3 separate regions of the Homo sapiens genome follow, and all the other regions are linked to region 1. The links come from fine-mapping of genetic effects on plasma protein levels. A gene starts in region 1. Each other region holds a variant in brackets. All regions are shown on one strand. Distances are from middle to middle.

Region 1 (2,828 bases):
CGGGGTTTCACCGTGTTAGCCAGGATGGTCTGGATCTCCTGACCTCGTGATTCGCCCGCCTCGGCCTCCCAAAGTGCTGGGACTACAGGCGTGAGCCACCGCGCCTGGCCTACTTTCTTTACCATCTTGGTTTCTGGCAGATTTGGCCGGCTTCTTTACTGCACCGTTTTATTAGAGGGATGTTTGAGATCTGTATCTTGTGCGGACCTGCTGTCTCCTCCTGTTGTTACCAGAAAGGGGTCCGGATCCAGACCCCAAGAGAGGGTTCTTGGCCCTTGCATAGGAAATAATTCAGGGCAAGTCCATAAAGTGAAAGCAAGTTTATTAAGAAAGAAAAGGGATAAAGAATGCCTACTCCAGAGGCAGAGCAGCCCGGAGGGCTGCTGGTTGGCCATTTTTATGGTTATTTCTTGATTATATGCTAAACAAGGGATGAATTATTCATGAGTTTTCCGGGAAAGGGGTAGGCAACTCCCTGGAACTAAGAATTCCTCCCCTTTTTAGACCATGTAGGGTAATTTCCTGATGTTGCCATGGTATTTGTAAACCGTGGTGATGCTGTCTGGAGTGTCTTTTAGCATGCTAATACATTATAATTAGCGTATAATGAGGACTGAGGACCTCCAGAGGTCAGTTTCATCGCCATCTTGGTTTCGGTAGGTTTTGGCTGGCTTCTTTACCGCATGCTGTTTTACCACCAGGGTCTTTGTGACCTGTATCTTGTGCCAACCTCCTATCTCATCCTGTGACTTAGAATGCCTAACCTCCTAGGAATACAGCCCAGGTCTCAACCTTATTTTACCCAGCCTCTATTCCAGATGGAGTCGTTCTGGTTTGAAGCCTCTGACAAGTTCACTGGTGGCCCGGGCAACATTTAGAAACAACAGAGACAACACTCCTAACAAGTTGGTTTAAGCATTTTACAAATACTGCTTTTAGTTCAGAGGGGGCTACTTACAAACACCCCCTCTAAATCCCCTAAGGGCACACGGTAGAAAACGCCTTCATAATTATCCTCGTAACACCGTAACTGCGAGGACCAACATCCTCCTTTCACAGATAAGCGAAGAGAGGTGAAAAGAGGGCAAATATACTCAAGGCAGCCGCCTCTAAACCGAAACTTGGGTTCTGAGGTCAGTTAAACTTGGGTTGCATTTGAACCTAAGCCTGCCTGCGTGAAAAGCCCGTTGCTTTCTTTGCACCTCAGCTGCCTCAGGTTCTTGAAGAGGCGATGGAGGATGTACTTCTAAGAGAACCTCAATATACCTACAATATAAGTGTTTAGGTGCTCCCTTAACTTGGAAAAAACCCACAACTGAGGAACCTCGGCCAATGCGGCGCCTGCATATTGAGTGCGCCCAAGAAAACGAATTTCCTCCCGTAGAGCGTCGGTTAGCGGCCACGTTAGGCAGCACAACCGTTCTGGAGACTGGGTGCTCGGCGGCCCAGCAGAGGGAGCGGGGCGGGGCGCGAGTTCCATACTCGTGGGTCCGTTTCTTCCCTCCTGGCCAGCCGCGCTCTGCTCCCATCTGCCTACGGGAAAGAGAGTCTCCGCGCACGCGAGCACGCGCACTCGCAGCCTCAACCCTCGGCTCCGCCACCGGGATGCAGTCTTCTGGGAACGGTTCTCCCCCAGCCCCCACCGGCTGACTTCCGGCCGGCAGCTCCTCAGCCCCTCCCCCTGAGGATTCACCAATCACGGTGCGCGTGTGGCTTGAGTAGGTGGGGCCTGAGAGATTCGAAAGGAGCCCCGCCCCCTCGGAGCTGATTCCCGGGACTAGGTTGCGGGAGAAAGCCTGTTGCGTGGAAGATAAGGCGGCGCGGGAAGTGGACACAGGGTGGGCTGGAGGTGTGCTTCGCGTGTGATGCCAGGGGAGTGGAAAGGTGGCTTGGGGAGTGCAGAACCCTGAGGATAGTGGCGGGGAGGAAGATGGGGCGTGCAGGCCGCCCCCAGTGAGGAGAGGCCAGGATGCAGGGCGGCTCCAGGGCAATCTGGGCAGTTGGGGGAGCCCTCCGTATCGTTCCCGGAGGTAGCAGGAGTAGCTGTGCGGGAGGTGCCACTCCTGGGCGCTTGCTTTGCCTCCAGCATGACCCCCGACCCTGGCTTGCACCCTGAATCTAGCTGCGAGCCTTGGGCAGAATGGATACCTGAGGAAAGGTATGGTTTCTCTCCAGCTCAGATCTAACTGGACTCTCGCTCCTGCTGGCTGGACATGGAGGATTTGGAGGAAGGTAAGGAAAGGAGGGAGGGAAGAATGAAAGGGAGGAGTGAGACCCAGCGATGGAGAGCTGCATCAGGGACCCATGACTGGCTTTCATTCTTCTTTCCCCTTCAGATGTAAGGTTTATTGTGGATGAGACCTTGGACTTTGGGGGGCTGTCACCATCTGACAGGTACCAGCCTCTTTATCCCACTTATTTTCCTCTAACAGTACCTCTTTGTCTCGAATCCCTTACTGCTGAATTATTGGCTTGGGTTGGTAACTTAGCAAGGTTTGGCGCACTTGGGGCTGCTGGGCGGCTGGCTGACTCGGGCCTCTATGACACTATTGGTAGCGGGGAGAGAAGGGAGAAGCTGGAGTTAGATTTCAGGGTGTTAAGAAGAAGGATAAGTGGATTTGCTGCATCTCCATCCTGGCATCATTTCTGATGTCCGTAAATGCTAAAGGCCTATTAGGCCCCATAGAACCAGGTATCTCATCGCCCAGAGGCCACATCTCACAGCCAGCATGGGCATCGGGGCCTAGGGTCATGTCCCTGGCTCTGTTGTGGGGCTTTTATGCAGTCTCCCTTGCATAATCTCCTGTTCCCTTTTGCATGGGCATGAT
Region 2 (2,843 bases), 22 kb after region 1:
TCCTACCCTGGGCGCAGCTCTTGCCCCCAAAGCCCAGGGGGCACTCGCAGCTGAACGCGTCCCACTGGTTCACGCAAGTGCCCCCATTGTGGCAAGTGTTGCTGTCACACACGTTCTTCTTGGCAGGGCAGCCTGGAATGGAGAGAAGGCAGCTCAGTGGACCTGAGCTGGGGCTCTAAAGAGAAAGCCTGTGGCAGCAGTTAGAGAGGCCTCTGAGACCCTCCATTCTGGCATCCTCACACCAGGCACAGCCCCTCCTCTCAGCACTGGGATCCCAGCCTGGCTCCACCCCGGGCCCCCATACCAGGCACGGTGCCATTGTTGGCAATGAAGTCAGCCATGTCTATGTGCCGGCTGTCCACCTGCAGGTTCCGCATGCAGCCCACGAACTGCCGCATTCGGACTGGGAAGCTCTCGGGCAGGTCAGGCACCCCGCCTAGTAGCAGGGGCCCCGTCAGATCCAGAGACCTGGGGGAGCAAAGATGGTGGCGGCACAAGGGAGGGCTGGGAGCTTCTGGTCCTCCGCTCGCTCTGCCGCCAGGCCAGAGACACGAACGGCGTAGGCAGGTGTCCAAGAGGCCCTGCAGAGCAGTGCTCAGGAAGGGCGTCACCCCTACCTGGAACTGTTCTTGTCGAACACTCAGCCCCCTCCCCAGACTGCCCCACAGGGCCTTGCTCTGATTCCCCAGTCTTGACCCCATCCCCAGGGCTGAGCAGGGGCTAAGAGAGGCAAAGGGAGAGAGACCCCAAAAGCCCACCCTCTCCACCTTCCCTCCCTGCCTGGCCCTGCCCTCACTTCACCCCATCCCTGGCCCTTTCCCCTGCTCACTTCTTGCTGCCACCCTGGGTGCCCTGGGCAGCACAGGAGTAGTTGCCCAGGACAGATCCGAAGCGCAAGGCCACTCCTGTGTCACAGCCATCCACGGTCACCACAGCCACCTTCTGCTCTGATGGGCCCTGTGGGAGCCCTGTCTGACCCAACAGTGGCTGTGGACAGGAAAGAGCAGAGAAGGGGGACACTGAGTACAGAGCCCACTAGGTTCATGGCCAGCACACACTGGGTGCCTCTGTGTGCACCCACATGCCCAGACACACGTACACACATGCATATACACACACGTGTGCTCACGTGGTTTATGCATGTAACTACCTTCCTCAGTGTCCAAGTTTGCGGCTGCCTAGTGGAACAGAGAGCATCGAGCAGTGCCCAGTGGGGTGGGAATGCCCAGCAAGGTGGCACCTTCCCAGCCGCTCCCTTCCTCTCAGCCAGAAATGCCCTGACCAGCCCACCCAAGCCTGGAGGCAATGCCACTCAGGGCTGGGTAAGCACCTGAGGCAAGAACAGAACCCCCAACCCTCTGTGCCCTCCACACCCACCTTATTGTAGTATTTCAGCTGCACCGTATGCCACTGGCCATCACTGACTCCTCCGGGCACGAATGGGGACACCGTGGTGGTTGACTCCCCTGGGGAAAGGACCAGGTGAGCTGGAATGCCTGACGAGGGCTAGGAATGGCAGGGTTTGGGG[T/C]GCCAGTGGCTGGGGCTGGGCCCAGATTTGGCTGATAGAGTATGTGGCTTGGGGTCAGGGGCTGGAAGACTTGGGGCCTTTGGAAGATGGGCAAGGATGGGGGGCAACTGTGATCACCTGCAGAGAAGGTGAGCTGGACCTGCTCCTGGATCACCTCGAGGGCCACAAAGTCATGCTTCTCATTGAAACGCCCATTGTACAACAGCAACCCGTCGCGCTCCTTTGTGGCAAACCTGAACAGGAGTTGGGGATGGGGGCAGGGAATGGGGTACCCACCTGGATGCCAGCACCCCCGCCACCTAACCAGCGCAGGGGAGGGAGATCTGCTGGCAGAACCACAGGCAACTCCAAGAGCAGACCTGGCTCTGCCGGCAGCCTGCTCCACGCTTTCACTGCCTGACCTCTTACTTCAACCACAGAACAGGAGGCACCTCAGATGCCCACCAGGCCCACTCCCCACCCCCAGTGCCCAGCCACTCACGAGAGGGCCAGGGTGAAGTGGAAACGCTGGCGCAGGCCGCGAAAGGTGATGAAGGAGTGGGCGGGGAAGCTGCGCGTGGTCACCTGGCAGTAGGGCTTCTCGAAGTCTCCAGATGGGCAATCGCACTTGAAACCGCCCACCAGCAGGTTGACACAGGTGCCCCCATTCTTGCAGACACCCGGGGTGCAACGGCCTGAGCGAGCACTCACCTCACAGTGCTCACCTGGACAAGAGGAAAGGCAGGTGAGTACCAAGTACCTGAGGACAGGAGGGGAACTGAGACCCCCCACAACCCAGTGATAGCTCCCATGGCCTCCCGTGACCCTCGTAATACTCCCCAAACCTCCCAGGCATCCCCACTTCCTCTCGTGTGCCATCTTCTCTGAGACCTATGGTCCCCAGCCCTTCATGGGCACCCTGTTTGGCTCACTGAGCCGCTCTCGCCACAGCTCCACGCACTGCTCCCCTGCAAGTTCCTCGGAGTCCCCAGCACCTTCCCTACCCCATTTGGGTTTCATAAGCACAGGCCTGCTGGGACACTTGGTTGTAAGGCCCGGATCCCGGGAGCCTTCGATGTCACACTACCAAGCACACCTGGGGGTGTCCTGGCCCCCAAGAGGGTAAATGTGCACAAGCAGATGGGCCTGCAGGACAGCGGGAGGGCTGGGAGCCTCCCTCCTCCCTCCTTCCCACTGGTGCTTTTGTCCCTCTCAGGCACTGAGATCAGTTTCCCTCCCTGGGGATGGGACCAGGCTTCCACTTAGATTTGTCTGGGTTATGGAAGAGTATGAGAGAGAAGCTGGGGAGCCCCCAGGAATGGGGCAGAGGACTCCC
Region 3 (2,500 bases), 68 kb after region 1:
AGTAAAGGTTATGAGGAAATAACAGCTTTAGCCTGGGCATGGTGACTCATGCCTGTAATCCCAACACTTTGGGAGGCCGAGGTGGGAGGATCGCTTGAGGCCAGGAGTTTGAGGCCAGCCTAGGCAACATGACGAAACTCCATCTCTACAAAAAATACACACATTAGCCAGGCATGGTGGCATTGCGCCTGTAGTCTCAGCTAGTCAGAAGTCTAAGGCAGGAGGATCATCTGAGCCTGGGGAGATTGAGGCTGCAGTGAGCTGTGATCATGCCTGGGTGACACAGTGAGACCTTGTCTCAAATTAAAAAAAAAGGAAACAACAACTTCAATTTTCAATGTACAGTAAAAAGAAAAAAAAAACCACTCAGGATAGCACTTTTTGAGGGAGGATAAAATTCTTGGGGTTTGCAGCAGATTTCCAGTTACATGGAAATCTATTTGCTTTGGGAGTGGGGCCAAGACAAATATGCCCAAGTGTAGGATCATTACGCTACTCTGAATTAAAAAGAAGAAATCACATTCAAATCCCTGGAGTTAGAAGAGTTGTGAGTTCCAATGTGGTATTATCACTCCAAGTTATACTGGACTCCTGAGTTCTCCAAAGGAACCCTAGTGGTACCTTGTAAGTCTACAGGAAGACAAATTGGTATAGTTGTAGTGGAGGGCTTGGTGAAGCTTGCTATGTGTCCTCAATTAGGGAGCATGATCTGAGTTCTTAATGTGGCTCTGGTTATAAGCCCTTGCTCAAGGCAATGAGAGAAGAACTCCATCCTCTGATCTGAAGTTCAAGATGTCAAAGAACCTTGATATAAATCTGCCAGTGTCTACCTTGGGCAGTTGGGAACTTGGGAAAAAACATAAATTCCATTTGGATGCAAAGAGAATATTGGAAAGGGTTGTCAAATAGAAAAGAATCAAATTAATAGATGCATTGGAAATAAACTATTGGCCAGGCATGGTGGCTCACACCTGTAATCCCAGCACTTTGGGAGGCTGAGGCAGGC[G/A]GATCACTTGAGGTCAGGAGTTAGAGACCAGCCTGGCCAACATGGTGAAACTCCCATCTCAACTAAAAAAAAAAATTAGCTGGGTGTGGTGGTGCACACCTGTAGTCCCAGCTACTTGGAGGCTGAGGCATGATAATCTCTTGAAACCGGGAGATGGAGGTTGCAGTGAGCCGAGATGGTGCCACTGCACTCCAATCTGGGTGATAATGAGAGACTCCGTCTCAAAAACAAAACAAAACAAAACAAAGAAAAGAAATGACTTCACATTTAGGATTAAGTTTTTTAAAACAATAACATAAACTACATAAACTGCTTTTCATAAAGAATATAAAGTGCCCTGAAGACAGAAAATATTCACGCCTCTAACAAACCTTTATCAAGGCCTTACCAAGGACCAGGTACAGTGCTAGGTACTGGGATTTTATGTATAAATGTGTATATGTATATCCACATATATACTGTATGAATAAAATTGAATCCTTGTCCCTGAAGAACTCACCACCTATCTACTTTTCAGATAAGGGACAAATCCCTCAGATGTGGACATTATACCCAAAAGACTAGCTAACACATTCAAAGTCATTTAGCACTGGCTAAGGGCTGGACTGACACAAAAATCTGATACTCCTGACTTCAGATTCAGTAGAACAGTGCTCAGGCTAGTTTTATCCTAAACAAAAAATGTGGCAAAATTAAATTCCATTGCAACTCGAAACTTCAGGTCAAGTGTGGAATCTCACAATCAAACAAACTACTACAATAGAGGGCCTAAGACATAGAATCAGCACAAAACTCAAGTTAAACAAATATTCTTTTGACATCCAAGATCCTTATAAACAGGAGAAAATCAATTTTCCTAATAGAAATCCATCACACTCTTGGATAGTGGCTGCCTTTGCAGTGTACTGTCATCGACCTAGCTCCCAGATGGTTGCAGACCTATTGCATCAGACAAATCAAATCACAAGTACTTGACAGCATCCGCCCAACCAGCGACCACTCCAGTTAATACAGGCAGAGATTTATGGGCAGATGGTTCTATGGTTTTATTCGGCTTCATGATAGATGCCCGATATGACTCCAAGATCCGGCAGTTCCAGGTTCTAGCCCAACTCTGCCAATGTCTTTAAAGGAAAACGTCCACAAATCACAATTAAACAGCTTCAGTCATTACAATCTTTTGCTCGCCTCCTCACTCCCCTCGCGTTTGATCTACCACGGAAAAGACTTTTCTAATTCTTAAAGGTATGCCCATAGGTCGGGGGATGGCCTTCCGAAAAGCTTCAGGGTCATTTATTTTGGCCAAGAGCGGCCTCCAACGCCCCGAAATGCTTCCGATACCGAAGGAATGAATCTACTGTGTTGCAGAAGTGACGCAGTCTCAGGAGAAGCCTTTGATCCTATCAAAACAAAGGAAAACCACTCTGGCCTTGCTGAAGATGAGAAAAAGACTGGGGGGGACCAAAGATTCGTGTTAGGAAAGCCGCGTAGACC

Which allele goes with the higher level. Positions count from the first base shown, and alleles are read on the strand shown. Strength reflects both the effect of a copy and how common the allele is. Not every link is listed here.
In carriers of allele A in region 3, the plasma level of the protein whose gene starts at base 1,767 in region 1 tends to be higher than with G alone (moderate association).

What was found. PIP is the chance, under the fine-mapping model, that this variant and not a neighbour inherited with it causes the effect. Protein levels are from antibody-based Olink assays in UK Biobank. Linkage for the fine-mapping came from a reference panel and not from the study's own genotypes, which makes the PIPs less certain.
Region 2: its variant is fine-mapped to the plasma level of the PSRC1 protein (UK Biobank, PIP above 0.99).
Region 3: its variant is fine-mapped to the plasma level of the PSRC1 protein (UK Biobank, PIP 0.97).

Annotation. Positions count from the first base shown.
Region 1 is chr1:109,282,084-109,284,911 of GRCh38, reverse strand. PSRC1 (proline and serine rich coiled-coil 1) reads left to right here and starts at 1,767. Exons shown (of 8, transcript NM_001032291.3): 1 at 1,767-1,849; 2 at 2,176-2,232; 3 at 2,337-2,394. The coding sequence starts at 2,214. RefSeq lists enhancers at 1,256-1,305, 673-1,398.
Region 2 is chr1:109,260,431-109,263,273 of GRCh38, reverse strand. It overlaps CELSR2 (cadherin EGF LAG seven-pass G-type receptor 2), which reads right to left. Exons shown (of 34, transcript NM_001408.3): 3 at 2,010-2,232; 4 at 1,646-1,761; 5 at 1,378-1,466; 6 at 830-987; 7 at 305-468; 8 at 7-132. Among named protein-coding and RNA genes, the nearest start is that of CELSR2, 12 kb to the right of the region's middle. RefSeq lists an enhancer at 1,968-2,467. The variant T/C (reference allele first, on the strand shown) is at 1,529.
Region 3 is chr1:109,214,453-109,216,952 of GRCh38, reverse strand. All of the region lies in intron 1 of SARS1 (seryl-tRNA synthetase 1), which reads right to left. Among named protein-coding and RNA genes, the nearest start is that of SARS1, 1.8 kb to the right of the region's middle. The variant G/A (reference allele first, on the strand shown) is at 1,007.